7 linked regions of the Homo sapiens genome follow. The protein of the gene in region 6 purifies or fractionates together with the protein of the main gene of each other region. This does not show direct contact. Each region holds a gene or a part of one and is shown on either strand. Other genes may lie near its edges. The genes, in order: MTX2, PLD6, MTARC2, MTCH1, MTFR1, SLC25A46 and NCEH1.

Region 1 (4,257 bases), on a different chromosome or scaffold from region 6:
AAAAAAAAAAAAAAAGAAAAGAAAAGAAAAGAAATCATGTTAAGATGAGGTCCTGCTGGATTAGGGTGGGGGTCCCTAACACAATGACTGGTGTTATTTCTCAAGAAGAGAGAAATTTGAACACATTGACACACAGGGGGAATGCCGTGTGATGTGGTGGCAGAGATTGGAGTGATGTATCTACAAGCCAAAGTACATGGAAGATTGCCGGCAACCCCCTTCTCTGGAGCCTTGCAAGACAGCATGGCCCTGCTGACACCTTGATTTCAGACTTCTAGCCTCCAGAATTGTGAGAATGAATTTCTGTTGTTTAGCCAACCAGTTTGTGGTAATCTGGCAGCTCTAGGAAACCAACCACGCTAGTTAAGGAGGCAGAATGAACAGTAATAGAGATCTACGGATATAAAGAATGGAAATATAGCTTTCTAAATGTCATGGACAGTAATTCTTAGAATACAGGTTTCCTCTGCAAAAACCTAGTAAGCTGTCTGACTTTTTGATTTACTGTGTGATTTAAAATGAGTTACCTCACCTCTCTGAACTTGTTTCTCATCAGTGAAGGGGGCTTTGGGTTACCAGCTCTGAAGCCTGTCCCACTTGTAATACCACCAATCTGTAATGCATATGATTTTTCTTTAATTGTGTAATTTAAGAAGCTATTAGGTTAAGACAAAGTTACTCAGGGAATTTAGTTTCTCCTCTTCCTGCCCCGTTCACCCCCGAAAGGTGAGAAGTGTGTGAAACTAAAGTATCTTATTCTCCAAGCTGAGCATCATTTCGGGTGTATGGAGTTGAAGGACAAATTACCTTCTGGCTTAGGCGCTGCTCAAGCCTCCTTTCTGCCAAGCATGTTTGAATAAACAACAACAACAAAAAACACTAATGTCTATCCACGGACTAATCAACCCAGCAATATAATGGAATAGAGGGAATTCATGCAGCCTTGAATCTGGTCCTTGGAGGACTGCCTGGGCAGGCAGTTTAAACTCCTTAAGCCTATATTCTTATCCGTAAAATGGCGATAATATTATTACTTTAATGGGTTGTTGAGAAGACGAAGTCAAATAGAATATATGTGTATATATATGTATATATGTGTATATATGTACATGTGTACATATATACGTGTATATATTATATATGTGTGTATGTGTGTGTGTATATATGTATATATGTGTGTGTAGATATAGGTATATAAGTGCCTGGTATCCAGTGGGCGTTTACAAATGTTACTCGGTTACAAAATTCTGGCTTACAGAAAGGACGCTAAAAATCTCCCAGATTCCCCTGCCAGTCCCCTGGGTGGGAGACGAGTCGGGTACTTCGCTTCCACCTGCGGGCCCCCAGCGCAGAGCCTGGAATTGGCTGGACGGAGCTAGCCGCGCCGGCGCCCCGTAGGACGGCGCGGGGGCGGGGCCGGCGGAAGCGCTCGAGTGCCGTTGTCGGCTGCGCCGGAAGTCCCTAGCCAGGCCTGGCGGTAACCTTGGGGGCCTCACTGCAGCCGCCGCTGCTGTTGGAGTGGGCTTTGCGAGTCTGAACGTTGGCGGGGCTAGGCTCGTTAACTGCCGAGAGCCTCCGGGTTTGCGGTGGAGGACGCTGAGGCCCGTGGGGGGCAGGCACCCGGGCGCCGGGCCTCCCAGCCGACATGTCTCTAGTGGCGGAAGCCTTCGTCTCCCAGATTGCAGGTAGCGCGGCTGGCCGCAGACCCAGAAGGTGGCGGCGCGGTCTCGGGGAGCCGCGTGGGGTACAGGGCTGGAGCTTTCCTCCAGCCTTGCGGCATTATACGCTGAACCCGGCCCGGATGGTGGAGGCGGGCACGGACTACCAACCTTATCTCACATATGGGAAAACTGAGAAGGAGACACTTGGCCAAGGTCACCCCGCAGGAGCAGGAGTCCCGTCTCCTTCCCTTGGGCGGTACTTTGTCCCACCTCCCCATTCAGTTGGGAGGTGCTGGAGTATGAGGGGGAGGCCTTGGATTGGGATTGAGGTGGGGGGCGTTACCACAGGGGCAAGCATCTGAACGCTTCAGTCTAAGAGTGGTGGCAGTTTCTGGGTCTTGGTACTCAAAAAGTTTAAGGTGACTGTCACTAATCAGTTGTTACCTATTGTTGAGGGAACACCAGACTTCTTGCTTCGTCTCCCAGCGACACAGTAGTGCCATTTGCTAAGACTCTAGGAGTTATTTATTTATTTATTTGTTGAGACGGAGTTTCTCTTTTGTCACCGAGGCTGGAGTGCAGTGGCACAACCTGGGCTCACTGCAACCTCCGCTTCCCGGGTTCAAGCGATTCTCCTGCCTTAGCCTCCCGAGTAGTTGGGATTACAGGCGCCCGCCACCACGCCCGCGCGGATTCATGGAAAATTTTTAAATCTGCATGTACTTTAAAGAAATACTTTTGAGTCGGTGGACTGAACATGACTGATGTATATAGGTTTGTAATTTCTCTTATTGAGGTTTTTATTTATTGTAATGAAAGAAATTAAATATTGTTGAGAAAGTGAGGAGACTAAACATAGGTACTTTGAGATAGAGGCTAATGGAATTAGTCATAACTCCCTAGCAGTGTTTTCAACATGAGTACAGTAATGAAGACAGTCACCACAATAAATAGGTACATTTGAAGTAATAAGATAGTATTTTGGAAATGGGAAGTACAGAATGTGTCATAAAATTTGCCGGAATGTTTTTCACTGCTTTGCGTTTGTGTGAACGTACATTTCTTTTTTTTCCTTCTTCACTTAAAAACATTATTTTTTAGAGGAGAGAAGCTCCTACTAGATTGCAAGCTTCCTGAAAGTAGGGATCAAACTTGTTTTGTTCCCCATTGTATCCATAGTCAGTTGGTGCTCAATAAATATTTGCGACCCAAATCAATGACTAATCTTGAGATTTCAAGCAATGATTATTTCTGCTTTTACCATTTATGTTGAAACAAAATCAGGCTTATATAGTTAGATCAGCGATTTAATTTAGTTTGCTACTATGTTGAAAAAAAAAACTTCACAGTGTATGTTGAGTGGTTCACTGTGTGCATGTGTCCTAATATGTGATTTCTTTTAATGAGAAAATGATGAATGTCTTTTAATAAACTTTGGATACTGCTTTAAGTAGTGACGTTTAAAAATTTCTAGGCATTTTGTCTGTCTGCCGTCTTAGCTATTTGTAGTGATCTGTTACTCTAGGAGGAAGCATTTAAAAATGGATAATTCAATAAATGGTGTTGGAACAACTACTAAGTCATTACACCACATGAATAAATTCCAGATTGATTAAAGATCTAAATATAAAACAACAAAATTGTAATAAAATAATTAGAGGAAAACATAGATTATTTTAATAATCCTTGGATAGCAGAAGAGGCCTAAGCAAAACTTAAGAATTCATAATCCATAAGAGAAGAAATTGGCAGATTTGATTGCCGAAAAAATTTTAAAACTTTGATAAAAGACATCTCAAGTTAGTACAAATAAGAAGACAAACCAACAGAATCAAGGACAAAGGATTGGAACAGGCATTTCACAAAAGGGTGAAATATAGATGGACAGTGAACAGATGAAAAGATGTTCTCTGTCCCTAATAATGTATAGCATCCTCCCACCCCTGCCATCAGATGGACAAAAGTGAATATGATTTCTAGTACTAATAGGGCATGGGGAAAAGTTACTCTCAAACTATTGGGTCTGTAAGTTAGTATTACTTTTTGGGAACGTAATGTAGCAATATTTATTAAAATGACATTCTCTGGCCTGAAAATTCTACTTATGGGGGTTTATCTGATAGAAATGTAAAGACCAGTACTTAAAGAAATACACAATGATATTAATTGCAGCATTATTTGTAATAGCGAAAAACTAGAAATGTTTTAAATATATGTCAAATTATTGTACACCAATCCACCAATTCCACTTCTGGGCATGTATCCAAAGGAATTGAAATTGTCTAAGAGGTATGTGCAGTCCCATGTTCATTGCAGCAGTATTCACAATAGCCAAGATATGGAAGCAACCCAGGTGTTTATCAGTGGATGAATGGATAAAGAAAATGTATATAAGATACAATGGAATACTATTCAGCCTTAAAAAAGAAGGAAACCCTATCATTTGTGATAAAATGGATGGATCTGGAGGACATTATGCTAAATGAAATAAGCTAGACATAGAAAGACAAGTAGTGATCTAAAATCTAATCTTTTTGGGGAAATCTAAGAAAGTTGATCTCCTAGAAACAGAATAGAAAGGTGGTTACCAGAGGCT
Region 2 (2,839 bases), on a different chromosome or scaffold from region 6:
GGCCTGCCCAGTCCCCCATAGCCTGTGTGTGACGCTCTGGCCCTGTGTGTGATGTCCCCTCTGTGGTTCTCAGCGTCCCTCCTGGGAGCTTAGCCGCCACCACTCTGTGAAAGCATGGCGGGCTTTCCTGGCCCACCAAACTGGAAACATATAGTAAAGCCAGTAGCCCCCAGGAACAGTCCACACTGGGGGCGGGACTCCTGCATGGAATGAAATCACCTTGTCCTTTCTGCAGGGATCCAGGTCCGGCACGATCAAGACCCAGGCTACATGCATCACAAGTTTGCCATCGTGGACAAGAGGGTGCTCATCACTGGCTCGCTCAACTGGACCACGCAAGCCATCCAGAACAACAGGGAGAATGTTCTCATCACGGAGGACGACGAGTACGTGCGGCTTTTTCTGGAAGAATTTGAGCGCATCTGGGAACAGTTTAACCCTACAAAGTATACCTTTTTCCCACCAAAGAAAAGTCACGGAAGCTGTGCCCCACCTGTCTCCAGAGCTGGAGGGAGATTGCTTTCATGGCACAGAACTTGCGGCACCTCCAGCGAAAGCCAAACCTAACCAAGAATGGGGCTGAGCCCTCCCTGCGGGCTGCTGTGCGTTCTGAGGGAGGGAGACCTCGGCACTAGAAAAAAATCGTTAAACTAAAGTCTCGTCTATTAGAATACTAAATTGAACTAAAGAAGGTTAGGAAAGGGAAATTTCTGTTACTTCGGGTCAGTTATTTCGGGCCAGACCTTTTTCTTGCTCCTTTGCCAAAATAACTTCAGTCACGACCTGCCACGGGGTGCTTTCATGAGTGTGGTCCGTATCTTGGTTTGGAATCGAAACTTCTGCTACAGCACAGAAAAGGCACAGTGCCTCTTCCAGGTCGATCCCATTCCCTTCCCTGATTCTAGAAAAGTCCCTCCTGCTTTGGCTGATGTGGGCCCTTTCAGCATCTCCCTGAGATTTCATCCCTCTCTCCATGTGGCACGACTGGGGTTGGTTGGGGCCTACAGTCTCCTTGTCCCTCACAGTCTGCCCCTGTCAGGGCTCGGTCCTCAGAGTAAGGAAAGGAAATGGAAGTCAGGAGGAAGGGAAGATGTGAGTGTGCGGTGCGGGTGGCAAAAGCAGCCTTCGGGGCAACCCCGTGAGCGTCATTGCCACCAAAGGCTGGCTGTTCCCTTGATTCCTTGCATAATTGCTCTTTAAAACCAGTATGCACGCCAGTGCCAAGCTCTTCAGCAGCCTGTCCTTGGGTAGTAAGTGCTGTGGTCTGTCAGGACTGATGGCCAGCAGCTGTTTCTATGTTGGGCTTTTAACTTTTTTTATTTTATTTATTTATTTATTTATCTTTTTTGAGATGGAGTCTCACTCTGTGGCCCAGGCTGGAGTGCAGTGGCACAACCTCGGCTCACTGCATCCTCTGCCTCCTGGGTTCAAACGATTGTCCTGCCTCAGCCTCCCGAGTAGCTGGGATTACAGGTGCCTGCCACAACACCTGGCTGATTTTTTTTTTGGTATTTTTAGTAGAGACAGGGTTTCACCATGTTGGTTAGGCTGGTCTCAAACTCCTGACCTCAAGTGATCCACCACTTCCGCCTCCCAAAGTGCTGGGATTACAGGTGTGAGCCGCCATGCCCGGCCGGGCTTTTAACTTTTAATGTCCTAATGTTAAGGTAATTTTGTTGTGTGTTTAGAAGTGACCTTACCTTTAACACCTGTGGAGTTAGTGCGTGCACATTGCTGGCTCAGCGTAACCCATCACGGGACCGGAGGAGAGGAGAGCGGGGAAGAGGAGAGCAGCTTCAGGCCGTGGTGTCTCCCACGTCTGTGTTCTTATTTGCAGCTCAGGGTTTGCATTCCCAGGTAGAACAGGTGTCGTACACTGTGAAATGTTCCAGGTTATTTGTTTATAATGTGTGTGTCATATACAGATAGCTCCGATGACATCTGAAGTTGTGACTTCATCATCTTGTCATATTTCTGTATGATGAGCCCCAGGGCCCATCCTGAGGTCTGCTAGCCATGTGCTTAGTCTCACCTCCCCAGCCCACGCTGGCATTACCACCCAGAGACCCTTCAGTGCTGTGTGTTTTTCCTTTTTAGGGTTACTTTTGACTCACAGTGTTAGGCAAGCCAGCTTGGAAGTTAACTTTTAAAAAAATTCAATTGAAGCTGTAAAGTATAATATATAGATTGGAAGTCACCAGAAATTGTTTTAGTTTGTGAATTCCCCCAGTGTATGTTCTGAAAAGAAAATGGGAGAGCTTGTAAAGCATCTCCTAAATGCGAAGCCGCGTGACCCTGGACTTCTGGCACATCTGAATAAACATGTTCTTATTCTGGAATGTGAGCGCTGGGTGTCTTTGCCTTAGCTTGCTGCTAAATCATTCAAGTAGGGGCTCCTCTTTGTTAAATATAATTTTGCGGGGGGGGGCAGTATACAGCTATTTAGAAACTGTTGGTCAAAGAACAGGAGACTCAAAGAGGAGTAAAACTTTAAGCTGTTATTTGGGTGAAGGAAATAAGGTATACGGTGGTCCATTTTTAAGACAAAGTGCCTTGAATCGGCTTCGGTCAGCAAACTACGGAAGAAACGGGTTGTACTAGGCCCCTCAGGCTAGCCGATGCCTTATCGGCTTCCCCGCCTGCCCCCTTCCCCCTTCCTTGGTTGCCCTCACCCGAACCAAAAAAGTTTAAAATGAAAGTTTACTGGCCTGCAAAATAGCTCGCTTTGTCTCTTCCTACCAGCTGGCCTAGCTACTTAGGTCATAAGTCAAATACTTGAAGAGCCCCTAAGCAGACTAAGATTGCAATGCACTGTGGGCTGTAACAAAATGCAGCAAGA
Region 3 (3,500 bases), on a different chromosome or scaffold from region 6:
GGAAAATGATTGTTAGGTCCCAAGACGGGGTGGGTGGAGAGTTCTGAGGAAGTAGAAAGCTGGAGGGAAGCTGTTGGGAGGTGGAAGAGGATTTTCTGAGTGTGCCCTGGTTTGTTTCTCTGCAGGTTTTGGCTGGTGATTAAGGAAGATGGACACATGGTCACTGCCCGACAGGAGCCTCGCCTCGTGCTCATCTCCATCATTTATGAGAATAACTGCCTGATCTTCAGGGCTCCAGACATGGACCAGCTGGTTTTGCCTAGCAAGCAGCCTTCCTCAAACAAACTCCACAACTGCAGGTGTTCCGCTTGGGGGCATCCACAGAACTGCAACAGGCTTGGTTTCTCTTCAGGCTCCTCCTTGCATTCTGTCTTGCTATAGTTTCTACAGTAGAGGATGACATTGGTAAAGGAAACATTTAAGAGAAGTGCAGTTTGAGTTGGGATTGGGCATGAGTGGATGATGCAGGGTATTGTTTTCAGGGTACCTAGGATTTGTTTTAATCAGGTATGGTTAGACACGCAGACATAGAAATGACTGTCCTGAAAAAAGAAGATGTTATACCAACAGATTCTCTAGAAACTGGAGGCACGCTACGCCACGCAAGGCCAAGTGGGGGAGTACCAGGGTGGGTCAGGAGGCAGAGGGAGCAGGGGGAACATGTGGGCAAGGGCTTTTATTGTGGTTTCCACAGGAAAGGAGAAGCAAGGCAGGGGCGGCAGGCTTAGGGCTGGCTAGTTTGAACAATTTCAGCAGGCTCTGGGTCACAGGTTGTCTGGTACTTGGCTCTAGGGTTGACTAGGGCATGGGACTAGTGGCCCGGCATGTAAGCACCAAATAAAGGAGGTGACTGGGAGTGCAGACTCTGGATGGGTTGGTGTTCCTATTACAGGCACACTTGCAGGTCATCAGTCTATTATTTCTAGGAATTGGTCAGCCCTGGAAGAAGCAGTTTCTTCAGTGTCAACAAGGCTCCAAGATGTCAAAGCGTAAAACATGCAGAAAATTAAAAGCAGGATTACTACAAGTATAAAGGTGGTACAATGTGCTCATCTTTAGGGCTTTTCTCCTTTCATTCAAATCTTCATTCAGAATTGTCAACTCTCCAACCAGGCAGACAAGGGAGTTAGTGGAGACTTTAGCAGCTGTATCTCAGGGCTGGGTGAGAAGGATGCTGGAGCTTCCAGAGCTTTTCAAGTTGACTCTGCGGCCTCTGAAGTGTGTGGTTGAGATGAAGACATATTCCTTGGGTGTAAGGGATTTCCACTTCTGGCCAAAGACACACCTCAGGCCTTGGCTTCCTTTTGGCCTATGGGACTTCTGTTGGGTTGTCAAGTTCCGTGGTTTGCTGGGGTCTTGTCCTTCCACATTAAGAAGACTTAGATGCTTGTCATGGGATGAACTGGATCCCTTGTCACCAACTGAGCTTGTTAAGTGTGTGGAAGTTGGTGTTGTCCCAGGGCTCAGAGGGGAGCCTCAGATTACTCCGTGAACTCTCATCTTACGCTTTTTCAAGCAAAGCGTCTAAGCTGAAATCCACAACTCATGGTTCCCAATTTTCAAAAGTCTGAAGCAATAATTCACTGAATTCAGTATTTCAGGTAATTATCTTAGCAAGCCCATGAGGGGGTCATTAATTCCACTTTACAAACGAGGAAACCACGTCTTAGATCACTGCCACGAAAACACAGAGCTGGGATTTGAACCCACTTCCCTCCTAAGGCTTTTGCCTTTAACGTGTTTGTGTAGGGAGAAGAAAAGCTTTTCCATAAATGACAGGTTTTGAGCCCATCAGTTCATTGAAGAGGAAGTGTGTAGCCATCTCGGCTTAATTGGAAGACATGTGAAGGTGATGGGTAAATACGTAGCTGACATGTGTCACATGAGTAATATAGGTGTTGCCCTGTAGACTCACTGTGTTGCCAACAGTGAGCAAGTTTTTCCCCCAAGGCTCTTTACCAGCTAAATAGGCAGAAATCTAGGGGGACACTCACCTTCCTGGATGGAAAGAGGGAAAGAGGAAGACCTTGCAGGTGAGTTGCCTGGGTCTGAAAAAGACAGCAATTGCAGCCTATTCTTTTTTATTTATTTATTTTTTGAGACGGAGTTTTGCTCTTGTTGCCCAGCCTGGAGTGCAATGGCACGATCTTGGCTCACTGCAACCTCCACCTCCCAGGTTCAAGCGATTCTCCTGCCCCAGCCTCCTGAGTAGCTGGGATTAGAGGCATGTGCCATGACGCCCAGCTAATTTTGTATTTTTAGTAGAAATGGGGTTTCACCATGTTGGCCAGGCTGGTTTCGAACTCCTGACCTCAGGTGATCCACCTGCCTTGGCCTCCCAGACTTCTGGGATTGCAGGCATGAGCCACCGTGCTCAGCCTGAAGCCTCTTCTTATGTAATTCTGTTCCATGCATGAATTGTAGATCTGGATGAGGTGGGAATAGAGAGCCTGGAACCCTGGCAGTTTGGTGAAAATGATTGAGAGCTGTGCATTTGGATTGATGCAGAGGTGTAGTCAGCGCACTGCCCTCTCTAGCTGGTTAGACATGCTGTAACTAGTTCAGCCTGTATTTATAAGCTATTTTTAATGGATTCGTTGCCAAGGGAACTGCTAAAAACTGAAGAAATAACATAGATAGTGTGTTTAGCTAGTGCCAGCTGCTGTGACAAAATACCATAGTCTGGGTGGCTTAAACAACTGACATTTATTTCTCATAGTTTGGGAGGATGGGAAGTCTAAGATCGAGGTGCTGGTAGATTGGTGAGGTCCCTTTTCAGGGCTGTAGATGGCCACTTCTCGTTATGTCCTCACATGACCTTCCCTGGTGCCTGCATGAAGAGAGAAAGCAATCTTGTGTTTCTTCCTCTTATAAGGGTGCCAATCCCAGCATGAGGGCTCCACCTCATCTAACCCTAATTACCTCCCATAGGCCCCACATTGGGGGTGAGGGTGTCAACAAAGGAATTCTGGGGAGACACAAACATTTAGCCCCTAACAGATGGTAAGCGACAGAGTGATTACCACAGCCAGCCCACCAGAGCCCAGAATCAAATAACATAAACCAACAACCTCAAGTTAGTAAAAAGAAAAGTCCCTTCACAGACATTTGGACAAGGCTGAAGTGTTATGAATTTTATATTATTCTACACTTATTTTATTTTATTATTATTATTATTTTTGAGATGGAGTCTCGCTCTGTCACCCGGGCTGGAGTGCAGTGGCGCGATCTCAACTCGCTGTAACCTCTGCCTCCTGGGTTCAAGTGATTCTCCTGCCTCAGCCTCCTGAGTAGCTGGGACTACAGGCGCACGCCACCACGCCCAGCTAATTTTTGTATTTTTAGCAGAGACGGGATTTCACCATGTTGGCTACCATGGTCTCGATCTCCTGACCTTGTGATCCACCCGCCTCGGCTTCCCAAAGTGCAGGGATTACAGGCATGAGCCACCACGCCCGGCCACTTATTTTTTTTAAACTTTCACTGTTAGTGTTTTGAAT
Region 4 (3,500 bases), on a different chromosome or scaffold from region 6:
CTCCTGCAGGGCCCTGTATTCTTTCTCTGCCCTCTGGGAAAGTACTTCTCTTTGCTTACTACCCCCTCCTACTCTTACTCTTGGGCGGGCCTGTGGGCTCCTCTGCTAGAGGGTTGTTTAACCAGAGATAAGTGTGAGGGCCGGGTAAGAGAAGGGCCTGCCGCCTCTGCAGCAGTGGCCCAAGTTAGGAGATGCATTCCTAAACTCCTATCTCCCAGAAAACACCAGTAGAGGACTGCTAGTGGGCTGCTCCCATGGGTGGTTGGGCTTCCCCAGTCTCCATGAACTGTGTAAACTCCTCCTCACCCTGAACAAGCGCTCTTTGCCTTTCTACTTGGTTCTTCATGGTAATAGTCCTCCCCATCCCTGCCAGGACTGGCTGGATTTGAGCAGAACTGGTGGGCTCAGCCCCACACCAACGGGTGGGCTTCTGGTAGGTGACTGCATGACCCTGTATCTCTGTCTTGCCTTCTTCACAGTGGTGTGCTGAGCTCCATTGGGAAGATTTTCAAAGAGGAAGGGCTGCTGGGATTCTTCGTGTACGTGAGTTTATACACCCCATAACTGGCCACGGGCATGGCTCTGCTAACAGGTGTGTCCTCAACCTCTCAGACCGCAGCTGCTGGCCTGGGACTTCACTACATGGCCCTGCCCTAGCCTGAGTGCTGCAGCCAGCTCTCCAGAGCTCCATAGCGTGTCCAAGCTGCTTAGCCCTTTTCAGGCCATGGCTCATGTAAAAGTGGAACTGTGTGTCTAGTACATGGGGGAGATGAACTGACCAGCCCCACTGGGCCTCATCCAGTTGTGGTGGGTGTGGGGCTGGTCTTCATGAGCTAAGTCACTGCATAGTCCTTGGCCTCACTGCTAAAACATGACTGAAAATCTGACTTGGACTGAGGGTGGAGCTCTGGAAGCTCACAGGCTGACCACAGCCAGTGGATTCTGTTTGACATTGCTTTTCTGACAAATTAGTTGTTGCCGTTAACATTTAAGATATGTTGCACAAAAATCCACATGTCTGGCATCTCTTGAAAAGCCAGAAAATCTTGTCCTGCTGAGCGGTTCTTTCTGTAGAGCATCCATCGGCCAGGACCCAGGACCTGCTTCTTTGGCAGGGCACATGGTCTCCGAGGGCCGCAGACACCCTGTACTTCGTCACGTCACATCCAGTGTACTTCACCTCTAAAGAAAGCACATACTGAAAAGACTAAGTTCAGAAAGAATAAGGTGCAGACAGAAGCCAGGCTTGATGAGTTGTATTTTGATTTGCCGTTTTAAGGTCTAGGCAGTGACATACATGCTGATAAGTATGTCACAAACGTGGTAGACACATGGTATACAACAGTATCCGCTGTACTAGATACAGGGCTCCATATTATTCATAAGAAGTCTTTATATCATGGTTTTCCGGTTTGTGAGATGTTTTTTATTTATGGCCCCTTGTTTAACCAATTAGTGACTACTTGTAGGTGCATGTGTGTGTATATGATATAGAAATATATATACGGTTCTCAGCAGGAGGTGATTTTGCTCCCCGGGGAACATCGGCAGTGTCCGGAGACATCTTGTGGTTGTCACAACTGGCATCTAGTGGGTAGAGGCCAGAGACGCTGCTAAACATCCTACAGTACACAGGACAGCCCCGCAACAAAGACTTATTCAGTCAGGTGTCGTTGCTTGCATCTGTGATCCCAGTTAGTTGGGATTAGTCTCAGTGGTTTCTGCAGCTGTCAGGAGACCAAGGCGGGAGGATTACTTGAGGCCAGGAGTTCAAGACCAGCCTGAGCAACATAGTGAGACTTCTGTCTCTACAAAAATGTTTTTAAAAATTAGTTGGCCGTGGCGGCATGCACCTGTAGTCCTAGCTACCCGGGAGGCTGAGGTGGGAGGATGGCTTGAGCCCAGGAGTTGGAGACTGCAGTGAGCTATGATTGCACCACTGCACTCCAGCCTGGGTGATAGAGTGAGACCCTGTCTCTTGGGGAAAAAAAAAATTATTCAGCCCAAAATGTCAATAGTGCCAAGGTTGAGAAACTCTGATTTATATTCACACACACACATATATGTATGTGTAAGTATTTATACATACATATATTTGCACATGTACCTGGTAACAAACCAACATTTGTGACATACCTATCAGCATGTATGTCACCGCCTAGACCTTAAAACAGCAAGTCAAAAAACAACTCATCAAGCCTGGCTTCTGGGTTCTGTCTGTGCTTTATTCTTTCTGAACATAGTCTTTTCAGTATGTGCTTTCTTTAGAGGTGAAGTAAGTTGGATGTGAGGTGACAAAGTGCAGGGCATCTGTGGCCCTCAGGGACCATGTGCCCTGCCAAAGGGGCAGCCCCGGGACCCCAGCCAATGGCTGCTCTACAGAAACAGCCACCCATCTTGAAACACTGCACATGACCACCTCTGGCATTTTTCACACTGCGTAGTTCTCTTCTGGTGTTTGAATAGGATTCCCGCACAACAGATGCCTACTCTTTGGGTTCTTTCTCCCCATGTGATTTTGGAACAGGTGATACTCATACATGTTACAGTGCATAGAAAGCACCAAAGGGTATAGCACAAAGTCAATCTGAGCACAGGCAGGGACGACAAGATTAGAAATTGCATTCACAGAGGTTCCTTTTATTAATACTCTTCATAGATGTATTACATATATTCTTTTGAGTTTTTCAAATATAAGATTTTTTTTTTTAATTCAAAAACAAAAATTCTGCTTCTCCTCCCAGGAGACAGCCATCCTTCTCCTGGCGAGCCTCCCAGGGCACTCTGTACCTAAACAAGCAAACACATTGTAAAAAACACAAGAGGCACATGGGACTCACTGACCTCAAACTGGCCTTTTGCCCTCAGCACTGCATCTTGGGGAACCTTCCTTAGCAGTTTATAGAGCTGTTTATCCTAAAGGCCATCACTTAAAAAGTTAGCCCTCCTTGTAAATGCTTGCATAGAATCTTTTTGATAGAATATTTTCAGGGGCAAAGAGAACAGATGCATTGAGCAGTGTGTCTTCTGAGAGTTGGTTAGGTAAAGAGGCCAGGAGAAAATTACCAACACGTCGGCACTCTTATTATCTGCATTTGGAAATTCCAAATTTGGCAGTATTCACATCTTGATCCCTGGCTTCTGTGGTTTGAAAACTGCTTGAGACTATTAGCTAATTTATGGCATCCAAAGCGGCATAGAACACCTCCCCATGGGAAAAGGAGCACTATCTTCCCAGTGTGCATAGCTGCTGGACCCTGCAGGCCTCCTTTCTAAGGCTGTGCCATTGGATATGCTAAGATTTTGAGCTCGGAACATCCCTGCCTGCTTCCTGGGTGTGGAGCCCCCAGGAACTGCTCCTCTCCCTCTCCTGCTCATCTCTGCTTACCTTGTTTTTTAGTGGATTAATCCCTCACCTCCTGGGCGATGTGGTTTTCTTGTGGGGCTGTAACCTGCTGGCCCACTTCATCAATGCCTACCTGGTGGATGACAGCGTGAGT
Region 5 (3,500 bases), on a different chromosome or scaffold from region 6:
CAGTGGTATGCACCTGTAGTCCTAGCTACTCAGGAGGCTGAGGCAGAAGGATCGCTTGAGCCCAGGAATTTGAGGTTACAATGAGCTATCAGTGCGCCACTGTACTCCACTCTGGGTAACAGAGTGAAACTGTCTCAAACACAACACAACACACAAAAAAATTGCTTTAATGGAAGAACTCAGTAAATTATACCTTTCTCCAAGGAGAAAGATGTTTAGTTTTTGAAAGCTGGCAAGGGTATTCACTGAAACATTACTGTGAAAGAGAAAATCCAAAGGTAATCTAAATGACCATCAATAGGGAAATGGTTAAAATTAATTCAATAAATTAAATATGCCCATTCTAAGTTTACAGCCATTAAAACAAAAAAGATAGAGCCATACATGAAACAATTTTCATAATAAAATGCTGAATGAAAAAAGTTACAAATACATATTAATTCCATTAAAAATAACTAAAAAACAATAAAGTAACAGAAACAGTGGTGAAATAGAGGAAAGATCTGAAAACTTACCAAAACTTAACACTTACTATATCTGAGGGCTTGGTGGTGAGACCCTCCACTTTTATTATACACTTATGCACTCCTGTATTGTTTGTATGTTTTCTTTCCCCCCAATAGGATACATGTACTACTTTTGTGATTTTCCTTTTTTTTTTTTTTTTTTGAGAGACAAAGTCTCACTCTGTCACCCAGGCTGGAGTGCAATGGCACCATCAGAGCTCACTGCAGCCCTAAGCTCCCGGGCTCAAGTGATCCTCCTGCTTCAGCCTCCCAAGTAGCTAGGACTATAGGCATATCATCACATCCAGCTAACTTTATACTTTTTTGTAGAGATGGGGTCTCACTATGTTGCCCAGGCTGGTCTCAAACTCCTGGCTTCAAGTGATTCTCCCACCTTAGCCTCCCAAATTGCTGGGATTACAGGCATGAGCCACCATACCCAGCCTACTTTTGTAATTTTTAAAGACTAGTAACATTTTCTAAATTAAATAACTGAAATCTAAAAAGTAAAAACATAAAAATTATTCTAATTTGGACCATCTAAGTAAATAATAAACATTAGCAATATATAAACTTTGGGAACCCTTACAGGCTATACTAGTATTTCTCAACTTCAAACCTTCATACTTGGTTTATGAGTTTTGTCATATCTGGATGCTCTTAATGTTTTAATTTAAATTAACTGTTTTTTTCTTTCTTTCTTATTTTTATTTTTTGAGACAGAGCCTTGCTCTGTTGCCCAGGCTGGAGTGCAGTGGCACGATAACAGCTAACTGCAACCTCCACCTCCCGGGGTCAAGCGATTCTTGGGCCTCAGCCTCCCGAGAAGCTGGGATTACAGGTGCAGACCACCACGCCCAGCTAATTTTTGTATTTTTTGTAGAGACGGAGTTTCACCACACTGGTCAGGCTGGTCTCGAACTGCCTGGTGATCGAGGTGATCCACCCACCTCGGCCTCCCAAAGTGCTGGGATTACAGGCGTGTGCCACTGTGCTCGATCTTAAATAAACTCATTTTTTAAAAATTAAATAAACTTAGCCTCATGCCAAGCAATAATACTGATGCAATCAAAGTTTGTTCCAGGATATACTTTAAAGTACTTAACTATACATTGTACTCCCTATCTGAGCCAAAACAGACAGAAAAGGATATCTTGACTAAAATAAATACAAAGTTGATTCTTGTTCCACCTAAAATCATCTCTTTAGGAAAGCAGTTTACCCTCCTGCCTGTACACATTATACACTTGTCCTTCAGTATCCACAGGGGATTGGTTCCAGGAATCCCATGGACACCAAAATCTACAGATGCTCAAGTGCCTTATATAAAATGGCATAGTAAAAAGTCCTAGCTAGAGCAATCAGGCAAGAGAAAGAAATAAAGGACATCCAAATAGGAAAGGAAGAAGTCAAATTATCCTTGTTTACAGATGATGTAATCTTGTATTTGGAAAAACCTAAAGACTCTACCAAAAAACTATTAGAACTGATAAATTCAGTAAAGTTACATGATGCAAAGTCAACATCCAAAACTCAGTAGCATTTCTATATGCCAACAGTGAACAATCTGAAAAACAAATCAATAAATTAATCCCATTTACAATAGCCACAAATAAAATTAAATACCTAGGAATTAACCAAAGTGAAATCAAAGTGAAAGATATCTACAATGAAAACTCAAAAGCAATTTAAGAGGGTCAGGGTGGTGGCTCATGCCTGTAATCCCAGCACCTTGGGAGGCCAAAGCAGGAGGATCACTTGAGCTCAGGAGTTTGAGACCAGCCTGGATAACATAGGGAGACCCACCTCTACAAAAAAACAAAAAATTAAGGGCTAGATATGATGGCTCACAGCTGTAATCCCAGCACTTTGGGAGGTGGAGGCAGAGGCAGGAGGATCACTTGAGGCCAGGAGTTTGAGACCAGCCTATATTTTTGTACTAAAAAATACAAAATTTGCCGGGTGTGGTAATGCACACCTGTAATCCCAGCTACTTGGGAGGTTGAGGTACGAGAGTTGCTTGAACCTGGGAGGCAGAGGTTGGAGTGAGCTGAGATAGCACCACTGCACCCCAGACTCCAGCCCGGGCGACAGAGTGGGACTTCGTCTCAAAAAAAAATTAGCCAGGCATGGTGGCATGTGCCTGTAGTCCCAACTACATGGGAGGCTGAGGCAGGAGGGCCTCCTGAGCCCATGAGCTGTGATCATGCCGCTGCACTCCGGCCTGGATGATAGAGCAAAACCTTGTCTGAAAAAAAAAAAAATTAAAGGGGGCACACACAAGGAAAAAATATTCCATGTTCATGAACTGGAAAAGTCAATATTGTTAAAAGGTCCATACCACCCAAAGCAATCTACAGATTCAATGAAATATCTATCAAAATGTCTATCAAAATATCAATGACATTCTTCACAGAAATAGAAAACATAATCCTAAAATTTATATGGAACCACAAAAGACCCAGGATAGCCAAAGCTATCCTGAGCAAAAAGAAAAAAACTGGACTTCAAATTATACTACAGGGCTATAGTAACCGAGACAACATGGTCGTAGCATAAAAACAGACACATAGACCAATGGAACAGAGTAGAGAACCCAGAAATCAATCCATAGGTCTACAGTAAACTCATTTTTAACAAAGGTGCCAAGAACATACATTGGGAAAAGACAGTCTCTTCAATAAATGGTGCTGGGAAAACTGGATATCCACATACCGAAGAATGAAACTACAACCCATCTCTTGCCATATACAAAAATCAAATCAAAATGGATTAAAGACTTAAATCTAAGACCTCAAACTATGAAACTACTGCAAGAAAACACTGGGGGAAACTCTCCAGGACATTGGTCTGGGCAATGATTTCTTGAATAGCACCCCACATGGGGTATTAGGCAATCAAAGCAAAAAAAGGACAAATGAGATCACATCAAGTCAAAAAGCTTCTGCATAGCAAATGAAATAATCAATAAACTGAAGAGACAACCCACAGAAC
Region 6 (3,500 bases):
AGTAATCTTATTTTTTTATTTCTATTTTTTTTTACTTTAGAACAGCTGAATAGATTTGCTGGATTTGGTATTGGACTTGCAAGGTAATGTTTTATCTAAAGACGTTTACAGCTTTTATTTATTGAATTTAGAGTTTTTCTTTAATTTACAATATTAAATGATTATTATTGCTTCCTTTAGGTTGTTTCTTTGAAGCAGCAGCTTAAATTTTGAATAATATTTTGCAGAAAAAAAATGACCATTATTTAAAATATATAATTTGATAGTTTTTCCAGTAAGGATAGACTAGTCATCCAATTTTATAAACACAAAGTAATTTTGTAATGAGTATTGTAACTGTTTTCATGGGTCTATCCAAAAAATAAAATGAAGTGTAATCTTATCTCTCTCCCATCAAAATAATAATTTAGAATGGGGTTCATGAAGATCAAATGGCTCTGCTGATAAGAACTTTTTTCATAGGACATTTTCTGAAAGAAAAATTACATGGCATTTAATGATGCCATGTAACTGACGTGTCATTTCCCACATCAAACATACAGTGATCTAGTTTCATTTTATACCGTAGATATTAATATTGTGTATTATATATTGTTTCCCTTACTTACCTGTTTGCAGATCTGGTTTTCATTCTTTTCATGGGTCTATCCAAAGAATAAAATGAAATGTAATCTGTCTGTCTCCCATCAAAAAAGTAATTGTGCATGGAGGCTTCTTTCTAAACACTCTAATGCTTACAAGATATTTAGCAACATAGCATCTAGATTTTGTTCATAATCAGCGTTTGGTGATAGCATTACTTTTTTTTATATCTAACGATCATTTTAAGAAAATCCTTTAGTCTTGATTATTGTGATCCTTAGTGAATACCATTTTCAAAAATATTGGAATTGCACAAAGCTTACATTTCATGCCATAATGATCATTATTTTAAACATTTTAACGAAGAAAAACACCTTATTTGCATAATTAAACCCGAGGGTGTTAATGTCAATATAAATAAAATCTGTGTTTTCCATTCTGCTGGAGTTGTTTTTTGCTTCAATATTTATACTTAAAGCTTTGATTCATTTGATAGACTATTATTACATATAAATATGTGTGCACATGTATGTATATGTCACTCTGAGACCTGAAACCCACAGCTGTAATTGTTTTGTGGGGCACATTCTCAAAATAAATATTTGATACATAAATATTAGTCAATTAACATGGTCATTAAGAATCTTATAATTTAAGATTTATACTTAAATTTATACTTAAACCTTATAATTTAAGTGCACCAAAACCAAACATTTTTAGAATGGGGTTCATGAAGATCAAATGACTCTGCTGATAGGAATTCTGTTATTAGGACATTTTCTGAAAGAAATAATTTGCAGCATTAAATGCCATTTAATTGATGTGCCATTTCCCACATTAAACATTCAGAGATCTAGTTTCATCTTATACTATAGACATTAATATTATGTATTATGTATTGTTTCCCTTATTTACTAGTATGCAGATCTGGTTTTCATTCTTTTCATATTGAATTTCGTTATGGGTAGAATCATTTGCAAACATTTCTAGACATTTTTAAAGATCTATTTAATTTGTTTAAGAATGGAAAACATAAAATAATGCATGATTCTTCAGGCAAGAATAATTTCAGAAAGATACCTGTTGTAAATTTAATTTATCTCTATGTAGACATACATATACATAAATTATTTTTATATAGTCTCTTTACAGAAAATGTATTGGCACATCCTTGCATTGTTCTACGCCGCCAATGTCAGGTAAATGTAATTTCTGTGATCTTTTGAAGCAATACTTCTGACCCTAATATGAAGGGCAGAACTCACATAAATGACATGAAACCAGGTAATTGTTACTTCATGTGAAATGTTCCAAACTTTTTGGTCTCAAAACCTCTTTAAAGTCTTAAAAAAATATTGAGGATCCTAAATAACTTTGGTTTATGTTGGTCATATCTATTGATAGTTACCATTTCAGAAATTAAAATTGGGAAAATTTCAATGCATCTATATAATTCATTAAAATAATAACACCTGTTAGTAAGATAATATGTTTTTATGAAAGTAACTATTTTGCATTTTTGCAAATATCTTTAATATCTGACATAATAGGAGAGAGCCAGTTTCTCTCGTATGCTTCTGCAGTCAATCTGTTGCATCACGTGGTTTTTGAAAGAAGCAAGGAAGTTTAGTCTTGTACACATGTATAGTTGAAAGCAGGAGAGGAGTATATTATATTCTTTTGAGATAATTGTGGGTATTCTTTGCAATTGCACCAAAACTCACTGTGTCGCAGTTTCTTAAAGGTTATTTGCAATGTGAAATCAGAAATCATTTTAGTGAACTTTTTATACTTTGTTACATTAAAAAATCCATTTAACTATACTGCATCTTGAATAGATATTTTTACTTATGCCTGATTCCATGTAATTGTGCATAAGTTATTTGAAAAATATTGACCAATTGAGTTACATAGATCTTCCTGTTGTTAAAACATTTGATTATAAAATATCAAAAAATCATCTTCATTAAAAATACTACTGATCTCACTAGAAAAGTCTATAAGTATTGTCAGCTCTTGACGATGCATATAGATTTTCCAAAATTCTGAGTTTTAGTTGAAAATTCAAACTTATCATTGACAGTAAATACTGTTATTTATTTTTGTTTTAATCAACAATCTCACTTTGTTTATTTTTTAAAATATGTCTGTCCTGAAAGTGAATAGGTATAGTCCGTCAATGAGTTTTTCTAAGTAAAAATGATGTTCCGTGAAAAAAGTGGCTAGTTTAGCTTGCAGTTCTATCATACAAGTGCTTTCCTCATGACAGCAATCTTACTTCCTTATGTAACACACAGGATATTAATTAGAAAGAGGATGTGTACTCAAAGGTCAAGGATTCATAAAATTAACATTTTGTTACTTCATTGTCAAGGATATTACTATATGAAGGTTGCTTTTTTCTCTCTATGGGTAAATGAGGTGAAAAATTACTGTAAGTACGAAAATACAGTTTGATGGTGCTGCCTCAATTTGTGCTAATGAGCTGGGAGTTTTACCTACCATTGCTTTTGTACCATTAGTGAAAATGTCAAGACAGTGAAAAAAGGAAATTATATCTTAGTAATCACTAGGAAAATAATTTTGAACTTGTCAAGCCCCTGAAAGGGTAATGGGGCCCTCAGGAGTCAGTGGACCCCACTTGCAAACTCTGTTATAACCCACTTTTTTTTTTTGTTTGTTTGAGACGGAGTCTCGCTCTGTTGCCCAAACTGGAGTGCAGTGGCATGATCTCGGCTCACTGCAAACTCCGCCTCCTGGGTTCACGCCATTCTCCTGCCTCAGCCTCCCGAGTAGCTGGGACTACAGGAGCCCGCCACCGTGCCCAGCTAATTTTTTGTATTTTTAGTAGAGACGGGGTTTCATCGTGTTAGCCAGGATGGTCTCGATCTCCTGACCTCATGATCCGCCCGCCTCAG
Region 7 (3,500 bases), on a different chromosome or scaffold from region 6:
GGTGAGCATCTTCACGCTTGGTGAGACAGAATTTAAATAGTTCTGGCAATGCACCCTCCATTCTACATAATGAGCATATGCCAGAGTGAAGTTGTCATGGGAATGTGAATGAATCCCCTACCTCAACAGATCTCAGTCCCCCAACACCTCCCCACAGTGTTAACATTGCCCCATTTTGTAATTCTAGTGTGCAAAATTATATATTTGTCGTGTAACATCTAAAAGAAAGCTAACTAGTCATGAAGCTTCATAGACAACTAAATGATCTTCAAGGTAACTTTAGCCATACACTTCTGCTTCATACTTGGACTTTAGAAACCCATTCCCAGGTGAGATATGACTGCTCTCCAAAAGCAAGAATGGTCAGTAAATAGCACTTTGAATATGTGCCAAAAATTGTATACACATCACCTCACTAAGTCCTTGCAACAGCCCTGCAATCAGATGACACTGTCCTCGTTTTTCTGAGGCTCAGAGAGGTTAAGGGACTTATCCAGGGCCCCGCAGCACTCAACGGTGGGTCCTGGGTTAGATCCCAGTGCTGTCTGGCTTCAAAGCCAAGAATGTTCTCTCCACTGAGCCAAGACTCTCTTCTGACCATATTTGGATGGAAAACTTGCCAATGCCAAATGGAAAATCAAGTTCTTGAATTATAGCAAAAGAGTTAGAAGCCAAGGTACATCATAATTAGAATGACAGATGGTATTTGAGGACACCAAATGAAATTTGGAGGTGAGAAGACAAAGATGTCTTAAGTTACTTCATCCATAACAGGAAGAAAATGTGCTTTTTCCCACTTGCCAAAAAAATTGGGGTGCTATTAGAAGCTAGATATAGTTTTCAAAGAATTAAACCAGGTAAAGCTCATAGTAACTTGTAAGATAATATTTAAATGGCTGAATCGTTTAATTTCTTTCTTTTACATTAAAAAAAAGTTGGGGAAACAAATTTTAAGGTTTTAATTTGGCTCAAAGTTGTAAGGAACAATCTTAGGAACTGGAATTTAAGCAAAAATACTCCGATTTGCAAGTCAAACATGAAAAAGGAGCAGGGGATACTGGAGTTCCATACATAGCCCTGAGAAGCAAGGGATGTCAGCCCTTCTCTAACACTGACTGTAATCAGGGACTTTACAAAGACTCATAGGTGATACTTCCTCCAATGACTCATCTTCCTACTTCAACGAGATCTCTGAGAGCTCTACAAGTGTAATCACATGAACAATTTGGCCATCTAGTGACCGGCCCACCCAGCTATGCATTTGCCACACATAATGGAGGGTGTGTTGGTCTGCTAGACCTTGTCATGCACCGCTTAACCCACCAGCACCTTAGGACAGTGGTGTTACCTGTTGTCCAAGGGCAGCAGCCAGATTTCCACCAGCACTGTCACCAGAAATGCAAATTCTGCCTGGATCAACCATATACTTCTGTAAGACTTCTGGCTTCAGGAAATACTTTGTGGCCCGTACAACATCATGAATTTGCTCAGGAAAATAAACCTTTGGAACTAGCCTGTATCTGTAAAAACAAAAGTTGTATTCATTTAAGGCCTTCTCCAATTTTGGGGGACATTTAAAGTTTAGATGGAAACTGGTTCTTTTAAATCTGGAAATAGATAAGAAATTAATTCAATGGAATTATTGTATGAAAAAGAAAAAATAATAAAATATAAAAATAAACCATTTTCTTGCAAATCAAATACTTAGTTTAAAATGTGATGATTTTGTATTAGTAATAGTACTATTTTTCTTTAAACTATCAGCCACCAAACCAAACCTACTTACCACCAAGAACAACCAAAATAAAACTAACAAGTAAAAGGCGAATGTTCATTACAAAGACATGGATAGCACCGTAATAGATTTTAGAATTTTATTTCTGGAAGTCAGCATTCCATTCATAATGCCTCTGGGTTACGAGGTGACTTGGCAGGATTAACCACTTCATTGATCTCACATTTAATGAGTCCATCATTTACTTCATATAATAAAACTGTACTTCACTGGAGAGGTCCATATTAGCCTGACATTAAACCCAAGAAATGCATTCAATACCTGGAAGACTGTAACTAAAAGGCCGGTTGTTAACTCACAAAAGGGAAGCTAAGTTTTCCAGACGGCCTAGAGCAGGCCCTCGGGGATACTTCTGGGGCTTCTCCAACTGGCCCCACTTCGCAAGATCAGAGTCCTTTGGAATCCTACTCTGTACACCTAGTAGAATTCATATCCCCTTAAGATTCCCAGAAAGCTCTGGTTTTGTCAAATGCCTCACCCATAGTGTTATCTTACACATCTACATTGGCAATCTTGGTTTAGAGTTCCCTCTCACTCTCTACTCCCCTCTTTTGCTTATTAATTCTCACTCATCCTTTAAGCCTTAACTGGAGGGTTTGGCCTCCTCTGGGCAGCCTTCCTTGGTCATATCTCCACTTGCTTTTGGGCTTGAACTGGCTACCATTCCTTGATATTTCTATGTGCCAGGGTACGTCACTCACTGTTCTTATTGGCTCATATGAAAATTATCATATGTTTTTCCTAAAGATTGTGTTCTCTGATATCAGGAACTGTGTTTTATTCATAACTGTGCTTCCAGTATCTGCCAATGTGAGGGGCACATAATCATCCATCCAATAAATCTTTTTTGAGTATTAACATACCTTCATTTTGCAAACGAAGAAACTAAGGCATACAAAAGTTACTTGATTTGCAAAAACTCAAAAACAGACCAAAATTAGGTAGGATAAAAACTAATTACCTAATTAAAAATTAATAACAGCCAATGAAGACTCAAGACTTTTGATTTCCATCTTATAATTAGCATACTTATTTTCACAAACTAATTTTTTCTAAGCTACTCTAAATAAAGACATTTATTTTCCACAGTCTAAAATCCAGCTAGTTGGGCTGAGAGCGGTGGCTCACACCTGTAATCCCAGCACTTTGGGAGGCTGAGGCAGGTGGATCACTTGAGATCAGGAATTCAAGACCAGCCTGGCCAACATGGTGAAACCCCATCTCTACTAAAAATACAAAAAAAGGGCCAGGTGCGGTGGCTTAGGTCTGTAATCCCAGCACTTTGGGAGGCAGAGGCAGTCAGATCACCTGAGGTCAGGAGTTCGAGACCAGCCTGACCAACATGGTGAAAACCCGTTTCTACTAAAAATACAAAAATTAGCCAGGCACGGTCGTGGGCGCCTGTAATCCCAACTACTCAGGAGGCTGAGGCAGGAAAATCACTTGAACCCAGGAGGCGGAGGTTGCAGTGAGCCGAGATGGTGCCACTGCACTCCAGCCTGGGTGACAGAGCAAGACTCCATCTCAAAAAAAAAATAGCCGGGCATGGTGGTATGCACCTGTAATCCCAGCTAGTTGGGAGGCTGAGGCCTGAGAATCACTTGAACCCAGGAAGTGGAAGTTGCAGTGAGCTGAGATCGAAAGAACAAGACCTGGGCGAAAGAGCAAGACCCTGTCTCAAAATAAAATCCTGCTAGGTAATTAA

What was found.
Region 1: the proteins of SLC25A46 (region 6) and MTX2 purify together in Homo sapiens (affinity purification with mass spectrometry, with the first as the bait; one large-scale study listed by BioGRID). This does not show direct contact.
Region 2: the proteins of SLC25A46 (region 6) and PLD6 purify together in Homo sapiens (affinity purification with mass spectrometry, with the first as the bait; one large-scale study listed by BioGRID). This does not show direct contact.
Region 3: the proteins of SLC25A46 (region 6) and MTARC2 purify together in Homo sapiens (affinity purification with mass spectrometry, with the first as the bait; one large-scale study listed by BioGRID). This does not show direct contact.
Region 4: the proteins of SLC25A46 (region 6) and MTCH1 purify together in Homo sapiens (affinity purification with mass spectrometry, with the first as the bait; one large-scale study listed by BioGRID). This does not show direct contact.
Region 5: the proteins of SLC25A46 (region 6) and MTFR1 purify together in Homo sapiens (affinity purification with mass spectrometry, with the first as the bait; one large-scale study listed by BioGRID). This does not show direct contact.
Region 7: the proteins of SLC25A46 (region 6) and NCEH1 purify together in Homo sapiens (affinity purification with mass spectrometry; one large-scale study listed by BioGRID and IntAct). This does not show direct contact.

Annotation. Positions count from the first base shown.
Region 1 is NC_000002.12:176,267,985-176,272,241, forward strand, and holds the start of MTX2 (metaxin-2), read left to right. Parts: upstream 1-1,457; 5' UTR 1,458-1,645; coding exon 1,646-1,685; intron 1,686-2,229; exon of another isoform or gene 2,230-2,425; coding exon of another isoform or gene 2,426-2,435; intron 2,436-4,257. UniProt on the Homo sapiens protein: Involved in transport of proteins into the mitochondrion.
Region 2 is NC_000017.11:17,200,495-17,203,333, reverse strand, and holds the end of PLD6 (mitochondrial cardiolipin hydrolase), read left to right. Parts: intron 1-235; coding exon 236-567; coding exon of another isoform or gene 568-583; 3' UTR 584-2,339; downstream 2,340-2,839. UniProt on the Homo sapiens protein: Presents phospholipase and nuclease activities, depending on the different physiological conditions. Interaction with Mitoguardin (MIGA1 or MIGA2) affects the dimer conformation, facilitating the lipase activity over the nuclease activity.
Region 3 is NC_000001.11:220,754,822-220,758,321, forward strand, and holds part of MTARC2 (mitochondrial amidoxime reducing component 2 isoform a precursor), read left to right. Parts: intron 1-125; coding exon 126-299; intron 300-309; exon of another isoform or gene 310-405; intron 406-3,500. UniProt on the Homo sapiens protein: Catalyzes the reduction of N-oxygenated molecules, acting as a counterpart of cytochrome P450 and flavin-containing monooxygenases in metabolic cycles.
Region 4 is NC_000006.12:36,972,697-36,976,196, reverse strand, and holds part of MTCH1 (mitochondrial carrier homolog 1), read left to right. Parts: intron 1-479; coding exon 480-539; intron 540-3,400; coding exon 3,401-3,500.
Region 5 is NC_000008.11:65,651,234-65,654,733, reverse strand, and holds part of MTFR1 (mitochondrial fission regulator 1 isoform 1 precursor), read right to left. Parts: intron 1-3,500. UniProt on the Homo sapiens protein: May play a role in mitochondrial aerobic respiration. May also regulate mitochondrial organization and fission.
Region 6 is NC_000005.10:110,742,007-110,745,506, forward strand, and holds part of SLC25A46 (mitochondrial outer membrane protein SLC25A46), read left to right. Parts: intron 1-40; coding exon 41-83; intron 84-1,723; coding exon 1,724-1,781; intron 1,782-3,500. UniProt on the Homo sapiens protein: Transmembrane protein of the mitochondrial outer membrane that controls mitochondrial organization.
Region 7 is NC_000003.12:172,634,568-172,638,067, forward strand, and holds part of NCEH1 (neutral cholesterol ester hydrolase 1), read right to left. Parts: intron 1,521-3,500; coding exon 1,349-1,520; intron 1-1,348.